2 separate regions of the Homo sapiens genome follow, and region 1 is linked to region 2. A link means that fine-mapping ties the variant in region 2 to the expression of a gene that starts in the linked region. Tissue or cell type: atrial appendage. Region 2 holds a variant in brackets; the other region holds the start of a gene. All regions are shown on one strand. Distances are between the middles of the regions.

The links. PIP is the estimated chance that this variant, and not a neighbour inherited with it, causes the effect.
Region 1: it holds the start of MRPL45, and the variant in region 2 is fine-mapped to the expression of MRPL45 in atrial appendage (GTEx, PIP 0.96).

What each region holds. Positions count from the first base shown.
Region 1 is chr17:38,292,369-38,300,472 of GRCh38, reverse strand. It overlaps MRPL45 (mitochondrial ribosomal protein L45), which reads right to left and starts at 3,305. Exons shown (of 8, transcript NM_032351.6): 1 at 3,224-3,305; 2 at 1,847-2,024; 3 at 1,005-1,122. The coding sequence starts at 3,289. LOC105371760 (a long non-coding RNA gene) reads left to right here and starts at 4,868. Exons shown (of 3, transcript XR_934732.2): 1 at 4,868-4,979. RefSeq lists enhancers at 2,870-3,420, 3,421-3,969.
Region 2 is chr17:37,328,881-37,336,984 of GRCh38, reverse strand. It overlaps ACACA (acetyl-CoA carboxylase alpha), which reads left to right. Exons shown (of 56, transcript NM_198834.3): 3 at 6,560-6,812. Among named protein-coding and RNA genes, the nearest start is that of C17orf78, 43 kb to the left of the region's middle. The variant G/C (reference allele first, on the strand shown) is at 3,439.

The DNA.
Region 1 (8,104 bases), 960 kb before region 2:
AGCTAGACTGGCTGGGTGTGACGGGTCACACCTGTAATCCCAGAATTTTGGGAGGCTGAGGTGGGAGGACTGCTTGAGCCCAGGAGTTCGAGACCAGCCTGGGCAACATAGTGATAACCCGTCTCTACAAAAATTTCTTTTAAAAATTAGCCAGGTCGGCTGGGCGCAGTGGCTCACGCCTGTAATCCCAGCACTTCAGGAGGCTGAGGTGGGTGGATCACGAGGTCAAGAGATCGAGACCATCTTGGCCAACATGGTGAAACCCCGTCTTTACTAAAAATACAAAAATTAGCTGGGCGTGGTGGCATGCGTCTGTAGTCCAGCTACTCGGGAGGCTGAGGCAGGAGAATCTCTTGAACCCGGGAGGCAGAGGTTGCAGTGAGTTAAGAGTGAAACTCCGTCTCAAAATAAATAAATAAATAAATAAATAAAGGGCTGGGCGTGGTGGCTCTCACCTGTAATCCCAGCACTTTGGGAGGCCAAGGCGGGCCTCCTGAGGTCAGGAGTTCAAGACCAGCCTGACCAACAGACCAACATGGAGAAACCACATCTCTACTAAAAATACAAAATTAGCCGGGCATGGTGGCACATGCCTGTAATCCCAGCTACTCAGGAGGCTGAGGCAGGAGGATCATTTGAATCCAGGAGGCGGAGGTTGCGGTGAGCCAAGATCGTGCCATTGCATTCTAGTCTGGGCAACAAGAGCGAAACTCCATCTCAAAAAAAAAAAAATTAAATATATGATTAAAAAAGGATCCTATACACTCCAAAGTCAACTCCCTAACTGATATGACAAAAATTACCAATAAAGGCAGGGATGCTGAGAATCAGGAAGCCCACATTATTCTGCATTAAATACAGACTCTAGTACAAAGGAGAAAATACCATCATGTTATTAAGAGAATGACACCCAACCCAATTAACCCAAAAAGGTCTCTTTGGGATAAAGTAGCAACAAAAAATTGTTATTCTAATACCAATACCCAATTGTCTCAGACACCTACGACACTTGTGATGCCATAGTCTTCTTCATTCGTTCAGTTCTCTCTATCAGTCCCTCCTTTGAAAGAGATGATATGCGTGCATCACCCTCAGGAGGAACATAGGCATCAAATATACCAGCTGTAATAAAGGAAGAAAAAAATTAAGAAAGTGTTGAAAGATTGAGAAAAACTCATAAAATTGAAGTAATGTAAAATTGGGAAGGATTGTGGATATGAAGTAGACTAATGAAACAGACTTCCATGTAGAGAGAACTATGTTACACTAGAAAAAAACAAAACAAGGCCGGGCACAGTGGCTCACACCTGTAATCCCAGTACTTTGGGAGGCCGAGGCGGGCGGATCACAAAGTCAGGAATTCAAGACCAGCCTGGCCAAGATGGTGAAACCCCATCTCTACTAAAAATACAAAAATTAGCCGGGCATGGTGGCAGGTGCCTGTAATCCCAGCTACTTGGAAGGCTGAGGTAGGAGAATCGCTTGAACCCAGGGGGGCAGAGGTTGCAGTGAGCCCAGATTGTGCCACTGGGCGACAGAACGAGACTCTGTCTCAAAAAACAAAACAAAACAAAACAAAAAAAGCCAGAAAGATTTAAGTCTTCTCTCAGAGCCTCAGTTTCTACTTCCACAAAATGGAGAAATTTCACTCTTGCCTTCTAGGGACAGTGTGAAAGTAAGTTCAAAGAACAACTTCATGATATATAGTGTATATAAGGTTAATCATTATTGAGGTTGAACTGACTTCGTGCTTAATTAAATATTATCAATCATAGTCCAAGTCATCCCAAGTTCCAGAAGATCTCTGACAGAAGGATCCCAGGTCAGGGTCCCAGAAATACCTCACCTGTACAGGCCAGATGTATGGAACGGTCCGATTTTTCTGGAGGAATAACCAATCCTGCTTTCCGGGCATGTTGCATAAACTCCTTTTCTGTTTTAAATTTAGGTTGATAAATAGGAGGTGTGAAACGTTTTTTAGTTCTTACTGGAACTATAGCTGCGGACTGAGTCACCAGAACTGGCTGGAAGGTAAAGGAAAGGTTAGGAACCTAGAAAAAAGATCTACTATCTTTTACAAACTCTAAGCAAAGCACTATAGAGAGGGAATATCCAAAGAATGCTTCAGGAACAATTATAAAACAATATCACAGGGAAAAAATGCATTAGGACCTTAATACTTATGGGTGTCTCTAAATAGAAGACAGTTAGCAACCTTTATTAACATCACATTTACTAAAGGCTTTCCTTTAGAACTTCCCACAGTACAGGACTATGCTAACTCCTACGGATACTGAGTTGATCAAAGCAAGTTTCAAAAACTGATGGTGATGGGGAAACACCAACTCAATACTGAAATGGGCAGAATACTATTCTTTATTATTTTTTGAGGCAGATCGCTAGCCTAGAGTGCGATGGCACGATCACGGTTCACTGCAGCCTTGACCTCCTGGGCTCTAGCTATCCTCCCACCGCAGCCTCCCAAGTAGCTGGGACTAAGGAGTGCGCCATCGCATCTGGCTAATTTTAAAATTTTTTTGTAAAGACCAGGTCTTATATGTTGCCCAGGCTCATTTCGAACTCCTGGGCTCAAGCCATCCTTCTGCCTCGGACTTTCAAAGTGCTGGGATTACAAGTGTGAACCACCGCGCCGGGCCCTGAATGCTATGCTTAAAGCATAAGCAAAGTCCTCTTGTAGGCATCTGCTCCATATGTACTCGTGATATTTTGCTCATCCTATCGGGAGTCTCGCTGTAAACTTTATTCTGTCGTTTTAGCACCCAACTGACCAATAAACCCTCGAAAGATCAGGAGATCTTTTCTCTCTGATCATGAGGTTTGCTCAGACGGGGCAGTGACAATATGGGACGCCCTCATTTTCGGCTACTCTTCAACGTAGTTCACTTATAAGAATCGAAGATTAGGGAGTCCACCTTCCAACCCATTACTTGTCTCTCCTTTAATATCTCCTCGCCAGACAGACCCAAACCAATCCGGAAAAACTTAATATCCGTTAATTCACTCGCTCTCATGGCCCTGTCTAGGCTATCCCCATTCGACCACTGAGCTCCGCAGCTAGGTCCTGTCCACCTAAGCCTCTTCCCCGGCCTAGGTATGACTCGTATTGTCCCAGCTCACCAAGGACAATTGCACAGAGAGTATTTCCCTCGACTCTGTCCTCTCCTGTAGCCCCTAGGGTCCTATCGGCCCCGTCCCTACCCACCTGCCGAGACCACCAGCCCAAAAACCTCGATAAACAAGAGAACCCTTGAGGTATGGGGGCTGCCATCTTGTTCCCGCAAAGGCCGCCGGGAAGGGAGCTGAGAGTGAAGAGCGTCGGGTAGGAGAAAAGCCGCATAGGGTGGAGCTAGCACAGGAGTGGAATTTTCCAGGGAGCGCGCCCTCCGCCGAAATGTGAGCAGCGAGGACGCGCACGTGCTCGCGGGAGTGGGGGAGGGTGGAGTAAGGAGGGCGGAGTACGGCCGCGCGTGCGCAGGGAGACAACGTTGGGCGTAGGGTGGAACGAACTGTTGTCCCCCGCCAGCGAGAGAGCGCTTGAACGCGAGCTGCGCCTGCGCCCGAGGCTTTCTGAAGGCCGGGGAATGGGCATTGCTGTATGCTTGGCACATTGCCGTTTATTCCATTAGTTAAAAAAGGAAAAGGAGGCCGGGCGCGGTGGCTCACGCCTGTAATCCCAGCACTTTGGGAGGCCGAGACCGGTGGATCACCTGAAGTCAGGAGTTCGAGACCAGCCTGGCCAAAATGACGAAACCCCGTCTCTACTAAAAATACAAAAATTAGCCGGGCGTGGTGGCACACGCCTGTAGTCCCAGCTGCTTGTAAGGCTGAGGCAGGAGAATCGCTTGAACCCAGGAGGCAGAGGTTGCAGTGAGCCGAGATCGCGCCACTGACTCCAGCCAGAGCTAGACTCCGTCTAAAAAAAAAAAAAAAAAATTAGTCGTAGGGTGGAACGCACGGTTGTCATGCGCCAGCAAGAGAGCGCCGGGCTTGGTGGCAGGCGGCTGTAGTCTGAGCTACTTGGGAGGCTAAGGCAGGAGAATCCCTCGAACACAGGAGGCGGAGGCTGCAGTGATCCGAGATCCCGCCACTGCACTCCAGCGTCGGTGACAGAGAAAGACTTTGTCTCAAAAAAAAACAAAAAAAGAGATTGACTACTGTCTTCTACTATGTTTACTAAAGCAGAAGACACGTGAATTGACAAAAACATTTGTGATTTGTCATTTCGGAAAGGAGTCACAGAGCAATTACGTAATTTACTTAAGGTTAGATAGATGATAACTGGCAGAACCGAGATTTGAATCTAAGCAGTCTAATTCCAGAACCCATGCAGGTAACTGCTACGTGCTGCTTCATGTTAAGTTGTTAAAGGATTCGTGATGTTGGGATCACCCTGGTAAATTCAGTAGTGTAAACGTTGCTGAAAGGCAGACACTTTCCACACTTAGCCGTTGGTTATTATTCTGCCAATTACAGCTTACAGAGTTCTCATCTACAATATTTTGCAATAAGTTAGGAGCTACAGGCTGTACATACAAGAAATTTCAGGCTGAAGTAGAATTGCTACAAAGGTCGAAGCAAAGTGCTGGGGACTATCAGAAGAACTGAAAGATTACTTTTGGGTTTGGAGATCACGTGTTGTTGTTGTTTTTGGAGACGGAGTCTCACTCTGTCACCCAGGCTGGAGTGCGGTGGCACAATCTCGGCTCACTGCAACCTCTGCCTCCCAGGTTCAAGCGATTCTCCTGCCTCAGCCGCCAGAGTAACTGGGATTACAGGTGCACGCTGCCATGCCCGGCTAATTTTTTCTAGTTTAGTAGAGACGAGGTTTCACCGTGTTGCCCAGGCTGGTCTCCAACTCCTGAGCTCCGGCAATCCGCCCACCTCGGCCTCCCAAAGTGCAAGGATTACAGGCGTTTTTTAAAGCTTGACTTCGCAGCTATATCGTACATTCTTATGTGGTAAGTATTTCCCTACAAGTTCCAGCCACAGTATTGAACCTATAGCACGACACATTAATAGTGACATGAAATTAGTGCTGTATGTATGTGTTGAAGAGTATGTGGGGTCGTGTGGGGTGGCTCACACTTGTAATCCCAGCACTTTGAGAGGCGGAAGTGGGTTAGATCCCTTGAGTCCAGGAGTTCAAGACCAGCCTGCCCAATATGGCAAAACCCTATCTCTACAAAAAAATTAAAAAATTAGGCCGGGTGCGGTGGCTCACACCTGTAATCCCTGCACTTTGGGAGGCCGAGGCAGGCGAATCACGAGGTCAGGAGATTGAGACCATCCTGGCTAACATGGTGAAACCCCGTCTCTACTAAAAATACAAAAAAAATTAGCCGGGCATGGTGGCAGACGCCTGTAGTCCCAGCTACTCCAGAGGCTGAGACAGGAGAATGGAGTGAACCTGGGAGGCGGAGCTTGCAGTGAGCCGAGATTGTGCCACTGAACTCCAGCCTGAGCGACAGAGCAAGACTCCGTCTCAAAAAAAAAAAAAAAAAAAAATAGCTGGGCATGGTGGCCCCAGCTACTGGGGAGGCTGAGGTGGGAGGATGGCTTAAGTCCAGGAGGCAGAGGTTGCAGTAAGCCAAGATCCCACCACTGCACTCCAGCCTGGGCAACAGAGCTATTCAGTGCCTATAGAAGCATAGGGAAACAAGAAAAAAGAAAAAAATAGAATATATGTTATTAAGCATTTAAATAAGCTATATCTGATTATTTAACAGACTCCTGTCCACCTACTCTAATCCCTAGAAAATAAAACATGATTTTTTTTTTCTCTTGAGACAGTTTTCACTCGTCAGCCAGGATGGAATGCGATAGCGCAATCTTGGCTCGCTGCAACCTCCATCTCTCGGGTTCAAGTGATTCTCCTGCCTCAGCCTCCCAAGTAACTGGGATTACAGGTGCCCACCACCACGCCCAGCTAATTTTTTGTATTTTTAGTAGAGATGGGGTTTCACCATGTTGGCCGGGATGGTCTCAAACTCCTGACCTCAGGTGATCCGCCCACCTCGGCCTCTCAAATTGCTGGGATTACAGGGGTGAGCCACCGTGCCCGGCCAAAACATGAATTATTTTTACTGGTATTCCCAACCAAAGTGAGGAAAGTTTACTCCATGGATGAGAGGTGTTTTTTTTGTTTGTTTTTTTGTTTTTTTTCAGATGCAGTTTCACTCTGTCATCCAGGCTGGAGTGCAATAGCTCGATCTCAGTTCACTGCGACCTCTGCCCCCTGGGTTCAAGCGATTCTCCTGCCTCAGTCCCCCGAGTAGCTGGGATTACAGGTGCCTGCCACTATGCCTGGCTAATTTTTGTATTTTTAGTAGAGATAGGGTTTCACCACATCGCCAGGCTGATCTCTAATTCCTGACCTCAGGTGATCCATCTGCCTCGGCCTCCCAGAGTTCTGGGATTACAGGCGTGAGCCACCGCGCCTGGCCAAGATTATTGATTAATGCAGAACATTAATATAATTTATCTTAGATTACTTCCTCCACCATTGAGTTTTATGTTAGCCTCACACAGTAGCCAACACATCCCAGATCATCTCTGCCCACCCTCTGATCAGTTTCTCAGTTAATACAAACTTGTTCCATATCAGCCTGGATGAAATAATGATAGGGGAGTCAATATCATTTAATTGCTTAGAGATGAGCTATAAGTTAGTTTTGTTGTTGTTTGATGAGCTACTGTTTTGGAAAATTCATATCTTCCTACCTCATCAGCTTCATGGAAAATTGGGAGCTGGCCAGGCACAGTGGCTCACGCGTGTAATCCCAGCACTTCGGGAGGCTGAGGCAGGCAGATCACCTGAGGTCAGGAGCTCAAGACCAGCCTGACCAACATGGAGAAACCCCGTCTCTACTAAAAATACAAAAAATTAGCTGGGCGTGGTAGCGGGCGCCTGTAATCCCAGCTCTTCGGAAGGCTGAGGCAGGAGAATTGCTTGAACCCGGGAGGTGGAGGTTGCGGTGAGCCGAGATCATGCCATTGCACTCTAGCCTGGGCAACAAGAGCAAAACTCAATCCCCCCCAAAAAAAAAAAAAAAAAAAAAAAAGAAGAAAATTGGGAGCTGTCTGTTAGAGAAGTAACACCAAAAGGATATTTCTTTTCTTTCTTTTTTTTTTTGAGATGAAGTTTCACTTTGTTGCCCAGGCTGGCGTACAGTGGGACGATCTCGGCTCACTGCAACGTCGGCCTCCAGGTTCAAGTGATTCTCCTACCTCAGCCTCCGAAGTAGCTGGGATTACAGGTGCCCGCCACCAAGCCTGGCTAATTTTTTCTATTTTTAGTAAAGATGGGGTTTCACCGTGTTGGTCAGGCTGGTGTCGAACTCCTGACCTCAGGTGATCCACCTGCCTCATCTTCCTAAAGTGCTGGGATTACAGGCATGAGCCACCGTGCCCAGCCAAAAAGGGTATTTCTTAATCCTACAATCTTAGTAATTCACATTTCAGAAAAAGCAAGATAAAAAGATCTTGTCACGATGATGGGAGCAAGAGAAGAGAACTCATTGTGCAAGTAGAGGAAGGAATCGATTGTTAGGGGCTCAGTCTTGGCAAAGAACACTCTTGCACATAGTAGACACTCCAATATTTATTTATACAATAAGCAGATGTGAAGAATTCCAGTTGAAATATGATGGGGCAGGCCGGGCGCGGTGGCTCACGCCTGTAATCCCAGCACTTTGGGAGGCCGAGGCGGGTGAATCACGAGGTCAGGAGATCGAGACCATCCTGGCTAACACGGAAACCCCATCTCTACTGAAAATACAAAAAATTAGTCGGGCGCGGTGGCAGGCGCCTGTAGTCCCAGCTACTCAGGAGGCTGAGGCAGGAGAATGGCATGAACCCAGGAGGCGGAGCTTGAAGTGAGCAGAGATCTGGCCACTGCACTCCAGCCTGGGCGAAAAAGCGACACTCCATCTCAAAAAAAAAAAAAAAGAAAAGAAAAGAAAAAGAAATATAATGAGGCAGAAGGAAAAGTTGATTTCCTGTTTTTCCCAGTGAAGTGGGTTACTGGAATCCCTTGTTGTCGTATTGAAATTTCTAAATGGAGCCCGAAGAGGGCTGGGTGTGG
Region 2 (8,104 bases):
ACACTACTCTAGCATTTATAAATGCTGTTTGTCTCTGTAAGTGAGTAAACTGACTCACAAATTACACCAGAACAATCGTGCATATGTAATTTTCACATGTTGAGTGGTGATTCCCAAACATTTTAAAGTATTGACGGTTTCTCATCTGATGTCAAGGAACACTGTTGTCCACTTACTTTCATACTTTACAGTGAGTTATAGCATACAGAGTTATTAATAATACATTTATTATCTATTAATGTACCATATCTTAGAGCACTTCAAAATCACAATTGGGAATTATTATTTTTCTATTTTTATTTTTGCAGTTGCAAGATTTAATAGAGTGAAGACAGAGCTCCCATACAAAGGGAGGGGACCCAAAGAGGGTAGCTGTAGCTGGCTCGAATGCCTGGGTTTATATCCCGATCATTGTCCCTCCTGCTGTGCTGTCAGGCAACAGATGATTGGCTATTTCTTTATCTCCTGTTTTTGCCTAATTAGCATTTTAGTGAGCTCTCTTTAGTATCTGATTGGTTGGGCGTGAGCTAAGTTGCAAGCCCGGTGTTTAAAGGTGGAAGCGGTCACCTTCCCAGCTAGTCTTAGGGATTCTTAGTTGGTCTAGGAAATCTAGTTATTCCTGTCTCTCAGTCCCCCCTCTCAACAGGAAAACCCAACTGCTGTTGGGGAGGTTGGCCAACAACCACTCTAACTGCTTCCTGCTGAATTGGGGCGTAGTAGAGGTTGTGCAGTTGAGATTTCCTCGGGAGGGGTGCCTTTGATGTCATTAACATCAGAGCATGGGCTAGCAGGCCGGTCCAGGGGTCCGTGGTAGATTTTACTCATGGACTGCATCTGGGGCTCCATTTGAAGAACGATTTGTAGTTTTACTGCTTCGATTCTGGAAAAGACAAACTTAACAAGGAGGTTAAAGATACAGGGTCCAAAGAGGAGTAACAATATTATAGCTGCTAGAGGTCCTAAGAAGGGGAGAATCCAGGGCATCCATTGGCTGAGGAGGCCCCAGGGTCCAGTGTTTTGCAGCTCCTTTGCTCTACGTTATATTCGACCTTGAATTTCTTTAACTTTCTCGGTGATGATTCCGGATTGATTAACATAACAACAGCATTTTTCCTCTAAAAATAAAAAGGTTCCCCCGCTTTCCGCGGTTAGCAAGTCTAAAGCTCTTCGATTTTGAAGGACTACTGCTGCTAGGGAGTTAAGTTGATCTTGCAAGGTGACCAGGGTATCAGCGACCCATTCCATGTCACCATTTAGTTCTTGAGACAGTTTGTAGTAGAACTGAGTAGAGGTTGTGATACCGCCAATGCCAGTAGCTACTCCGCCTAGCACTCCTGCTCCAATAACAAAAGGAAGAATGGGTACTCTTTTGTTGCGGGGCTTAGGTATGACATGATTGTATAAATCTTGTTCAGTGTAGATGGGCATAGGGGCCACTAAGAATGAGAGGAAGCACACAGATTCTGAAGAGCCATTCAAACAATGATAGGCTGAGGTACCACAGACAAAAAATATTCCTGAGGGTAGGCAGACTATTCGTGTGGGAGGAGTTACCCACCTGATGCATTGGGAGTTGGCTGTGTCTATAGTATTGCTAAATTTTACACAGGTGAGGTTTGAGGTATGGGTTATTTCCAGATTGGAAAGAGGACCTACTAAAACAGAAGTGGTGTTTATTTCTGTGCTGAAGTTGTTCCATTGTTCAGGTATAGGGATTGAAATGTATGGCCTAAAGTGCAGGGGGAGGCACATCCAACAGTTAGTAGGGTTTTGGGCCGAGACCTCATGGAGCCCAGTCAGGGTGGTATTAAATAGGCTTACCAGGCCAGTATGGGTATGGAGGGTTTCATGTAGTTTTGAGAGATCTAGTCCTTTGTAGGGGCCAGGGGTGCTATGTACCCAGGTCAGTTGGGAGATTACTTCCTTTATGTGTTTTTCTGTTGCCTGATCTTGAACTCCACCCCCATCAGACATACTGGTATGAGTGAAGTGAGTCCTCCAAGTCCTCCAGGACAACTGGGATTAATCGTTTTTCCTGTCCAATAATGAGTATTTGCATGCATGCAAAGAGTGGCAGAGTTATAGCAGTTGTGGGGCATATGGGTGTGGGCAGTGAAGGTGGGGGTTCCCTTAGATAAACTCCTATACAATGGGGCATCAATATTTCCGGGACGCTGCATTCTCCATAGAAACTCTTGCTAAGGGGAGCTACTGGCATGGACGGGGCATGGACGGGGTGCAGTGGCATGGACGGGGTGCAGTGAGAGTGAAAGGGGGTAAGAGAACAGTAAAGAGAAAAATATGATAAGGGAGGGCCAGGGGATTTACGATTTTAGTTACTTTCCCCCTGGTTGTCATTTGAAGAGCAGGCGCAGATCCTCTAGAGGTTCACAGGAATAGCTAGCATTGTCTCATGGATTTTTGAGTTCCTTTGGCAGTATCCAGGGTTTGACTTGAGTGTGATGTATCCAAGACTCCGCTCCAGCCACTTTAACTGCCGTTAGGGTAGATAAAATGGCTGGGTAGTTTCCTTCCCAGGATGTATCTAGGGATGGGGAATTAGAGGGAAGGGACTTGACTAATACCATGTCACCAGGGTGGAATAGTTCCTTTCCCTCTTCTTGGGGACAGGCTCCCTGTAATGTTTTAAGAACCTGTTGATATTTGGCTAAGGAGATGATGTCTGCAACTAAGTTGGCTGTCTCTCGGTCAAGCCCAAGTTCATTGGTTAGGAAGGGCCGTCCATACAGCATTTTGTATGGACTAAGTCCTGCTTTTTGGGGAGAGTTTCGGATTCTTAGTAAGGCTATAGGCAACAGAGCAGGCCATGCGAGGTGGGTTTCCTGGATTAGCTTTTTTAGATGTCATTTGAGTGTTTTGTTCATTTTCTCCACCTTTCCTGAGGACTGTGGCCTCCAGGCGCAGTGTGAGTGATATTGTATACCTAACACCTGGGATACTCCTTGGGTTACTGTAGCCTTGAAAGCAGGGCCATTGTCACTCTGTAAGCCTTGGGGAAGTCCGAATCTGGGAATTATTTCATGAACGTTTATTACCTCTTGGGCCTTTTCTGTCCTACAGGGGAAGGCCTCTGCCCAACCAGTGAAAGTATCTACCCAAACTAGTAGATACTGAAATCCCTGAGATTTGGGCATATGGGTAAAATCTAGTTGCCAGTCTTCTCTTGGGTAGTGGCCTGTTCTTTGTTCTCCTGAAGGAGCTTGGCGATAAGGCAGGGGATTATTTCTTTGGCACACTTCACAGGCCCTGACTATCTGCTTGATAGTTTTGAAAAGGCCTGGTCCAGTAAATAATGATTTGGCCATCTGATGGGTGCTATCAATACCTAAGTGAAGGGTTTGGTGAAGGGTTTTAAGTAATTTCCATTGGTTAGCTGCAGGCAAAAGTATTTTTCCTTCTTTGGTGGCTAGCCATCCT[G/C]AGGGGAGGAAACTATGTCCCCGTGAGGTTCCCCATTCTATTTCTTCTTCTGAGTACTGGGGCTTGGTTTCCTGGAGGGGATTACCCCATACTAGGTGTCCTTCTATAAGCATTTCTAATGGAGGGTCCTGCCTTGCGGCTCTTTTGGCTCCAATATCTGGTTGGCGGTTCCCTTCTATTTCCCTTTCCTTTCCTTTCCTTTCTGATGACACCGGCAGTGTAAGACTGCCACCTCTTTAGGTTTCTGTACAGCCTAGAATAATCTCCTGATGGCTTCCCGATGTTTGATAGGTGTTCCTTGGAAGTTAGGAATTCCCTTTCTCTCCATATTGCTGCATGGGCATGGAGGACTAGGTAAGCATACTTAGAGTCTGTATATATATTTATCCTTTTTCCTGCTCCTAATTCTAGTGCCTGAGTGAGGGCTATGAGTTCTGCCAGCTGAGCAGTAGTTGCTGGAGTGAGGGCATTACTTTCAAGTATTCCATTATCACTGACCACTGCATACCCCACTTTTCAAAGTCCTTTTTCTACAAAGGAACTTCCATCAGTATACAAGTTGAGGTCGGGATCAGTCAAGGGAACCTCTAAAAGGTCCACAATTGGGAATTATTAATCTTTTTTTTTTTTTTTTTTCTAGACAGAGTCTCACTCTGTCACCCAGGCTGGAGTGCAGAGGCATGATCTCAGCTCACTGCAACCTCCGCCTCCCGGGTTCAAGTGATTCTTCTGCCTCAGCCTCCCGAGTAGCTGGGATTATACACTTGTTACCACACCCAGCTAATTTTTGTATTTTTAGTAGAGACGGGGTTTCACCATGTTGGCCAGGTTGGTGTTGAACTGCTGACCTCAGGTGATCTACCCACCTCGGCCTACCAAAGTGCTGGTATTTACAGGCGTGAGCCACCGCGTCCGGCCAATCTTTTTTTTTTTTTTTTTGTACAGATGGGATCTTGTTTTGATGCTCATGCTAGTCTTGAACTCCTGGACTCAAACAATCCTCCTGCCTCTGCCTCCCAAGTTGTTAGGATTATAGGCGTGAGCCACCGCGCCCAGGCTTATTTTCTGAATTAAAATAATTGATCTGGGTACAAGCTATTTAATACTGAGTTGATCTGTAGTTTTGAAATTTTAAAATAGGATTTTTGAGATGACAGAAGAAATATTGTTTCATTTAGTTTGGGTTTTTATTGTTGTGGGCTCTTATTTTGGTTTTTAAAAAATATTTTTAAATTTTTATGGGCAGCACTTCATTCCATAAAAGAGAATGAATGTTGCTGTTTTGGTCTTTATTAATTAGTTTCTTTTTCTTTCTTTTTTTTTTTTAAATTATACTTTTAAGTTCTGGGATACATGTGCAGAACATGCAGGTTTGTTATGTAGGTAAACACGTGTCATGATGGTTTGCTGTTAATTAGTTTCTTAGTTAGCTATTGGCAGTATCTAATCCTAACTGGTAAGGCCCTACATTTAGAAAAATTATACTTACTTGAGGTGATTATAGATTTTAAATTTGGTGATAGATTCATTTTCTTCTCATATCAGTGTCAGCACATTAGAGCCAAAAGTAGTCATTTTGGGGTGACATTTTAAAATGCATAATTTAAGAAAAAACTCATGAGGACAAGTAAAGTTTTTTTTTTTTTAATTAAAAATTACCTATCTGGAGTTTGTTTTAAAAGTATACACATACGTAAAATTCATAGGCCAGGCACAGTGGCTTACACCTGTAATCCCAGCAGTTTGGGAGCCTAAGGTGAGAGGATTGCTTGAGCCCAGGAGTTCAAGACCAGCCTAGGCAACATAGGGAGTCCCCATTTCTACAAAATATTTAAAAATTAGACCGGGCACAGTGGCTCACACCCATAGTCCTAGCACTTTGAGAGGCTGAGGTGGGTGGATCATGAGATCAGGAGTTCAAGACCAGCCTAGCCAAGATAGTGAAACTCCATCTCTACTAAAAATACAAAAGTCAGCCGGGCATGGTGGTGGGTACCTGTAATCCCAGCTACTTGGGAGGCCGAGGCAGAGAATTGCTTGAACCCGGGAGGCGGAGGTTGCAGTGAGCTGAGATCGTGCCATTGCACTCCAGCCTGGGCGACAGAGTGAGACTCCGTCTCAAAAAAGAAAAAAAAAATAGGCCGGGTGCGGTGGCTCACACCTGGAATCCCAGCACTTTGGGAGGCTGAGGCGGAAGGTCAGGAGATCGAGACCATCCTGGCTAACACGGTGAAACCCCATCTCTACTAAAAATACAAAAAATTAGCTGGGTGTTGTGGCGGGTGCCTGTAGTCCCAGGTACTCAGGAGGCTGAGGCAGGAGAATGGCATGAACCCGGGAGGCGGAGCTTGCAGTGAGTGGCAGTCGCACCACTGCACTCCAGCCTGGGCAACAGAGCGAGACTCCGTCTCTAAATAAATAAATAAATAAATAAATAAATAAATAAATAAATGAAAAATAAAAATAGAATTAGCCGGGCATGGTGGCACGTGCCTATAGTCCCAGCTACTGGGGAGGCTGAGGTAGGAGGATCACTTGAGCCCAAAGAGTTTGAGGCTGCAGTGAACCATGATTGTAGTACTGCATGCTGTATGGGTGACAGAGTGAGACCCTGTCTCAAATAAATAAATAATAAAATAAAAGTTATAGCCTCTCAATATATAGTGTTTGAAGCCAGATGAGCATTATGTAGTTTAAATATTATTTCAAACAACCATTACTCTATCCAGACCCTTACCATTTATTCCCCCATTACTAACAACCAAAATATCAATATCACAACAAGCAGCTTTTTCCTACTGCAAAGGTTTCCCCATTGATCATAATTATTTCCTGGACACCACCAAATGAAAATGAGATTAGGAATGCCTTATAGGCTTTTGAGAAAAATTTCTTTGAGGAAAAGGGAACTGGTTTTAATTTATGGGCATAGTTATCATGATCTCAATTTTCCTCCCTTGTAGAAATTAAAGGCCCTGAAATAGAATAGCCAAGGAAGTTAGTTCTCAAATTGCCTTGCTTCCACGTCTCAGCTATGGTTTATTAGATATAACCTCTGGCTGACCTCAGATATAGATTATTATTCATAACCTGCCTTTCTCACTTTTCATTTTCTCCATAGCTGTAAGAGCTCATTTTGGAGGAATAATGGATGAACCATCTCCCTTGGCCCAACCTCTGGAGCTGAACCAGCACTCTCGATTCATAATAGGTTCTGTGTCTGAAGATAACTCAGAGGATGAGATCAGCAACCTGGTGAAGTTGGACCTACTGGAGGAGAAGGAGGGCTCCTTGTCACCTGCTTCTGTTGGCTCAGATACACTCTCTGATTTGGGGATCTCTAGCCTACAGGATGGCTTGGCCTTGCACATAAGGTAAGAGAGAGTTCAATGGTCTACTTATTTAATCTGTCTTGTTAGTTTTGCTGATTATGTTCTGAAAAGAGCAAGGATGATTTCAGCTAAGACTGCTTTGCCTTTTCCTATGTCACTGAACTCAAAGCTTTGTTGAGGAAGTCAGAAATGATGTATTTTTCAGAAATCATGTATGTTCCCATCAAATTTTTCATGTCCTACTAGGTTTTTTTTGTTTTTGTTTTTGTTTTTTGAGACGGAGTCTTGCTCTGTTGCCCAAGCTGGAGTGCAGTGGTGCGGTCTCAGCTCACTGCAACCTCCGCCTCCTGGGTTCAAGCAATTCTTCTGCCTCAGCCTCCCAAGTAGCTGGGATTACAGGCGCCTGCCACCATGCCCAGCTAATTTTTTGTGTTTTTAGTAGAGATGGAGTTTCACCATGTTGGCCAGGCTGGTCTTGAACTCCTGACCTTGTGATCCGCCCACCTCAGCTTTCCAAAATGCTGGGATTAGAGGTGTGAGCTACCCCGCCCAGCCTATTTTTTTTTTTTTTTTTGAGATAGAGTCTCACTCTGTCGCCCAAATGGGAGTGCAGTGGTACAATCTCAGCTCACTGCAACCTCTGCCTCCCAGGTTCAAGAGATTCTCCTGCCTCAGCCTCCTGAATAGCTGGGACTACAAGTGCATGCCCTTGCGCCTAGCTGATTTCTGTTGTTTTTGATAGACACCGGGTTTCGCCATGTTGGCCAGGCTGGTCTCGAATTCCTGACCTCAAGTGATCCGCCTGCCTCAGTCTCTCAAAGTGCTGGGATTAAAGATATGAACCACTACACCTGGCCACTTCTACCTGCTAGGTCTTTCAGTGAGACCTAGTGAGTAAGAGTTAGGTTGAGGAACATCAGTTTTTGTACTACTTTGACTAACATTGTTCTAACTATCTTGATGATTGATAGGACTTCTCCAGGTGTTGTCAACTTCGTAGTAAGTTTTTTTGAACTAATTCATCAGATTGTCAGGAAGTTATATTCTGTTTCTAGCAGGGCCAGTCCCCAATAAAGGGCTGTTAATAGAGCTCTCCTTTTTCTCTAGAAACACAGTTCTCCCTAACTGAGAATGTCAGTACATAGTAACACTAGATTGTTTTTATTTATCGATGTTTGATTATATAACTAGCGTGTGAGATACTAACCTTTGGTCATTTACTTTTCAGTTCTTGGATTAAAAGGTCTGGATCAGTGGTTCTTGGTTCTCACTGTTCATCAGAATCACCTCGGGGAGCCTTGGGAGATAAGCCCCATCCCCAGAGATTTCGATTC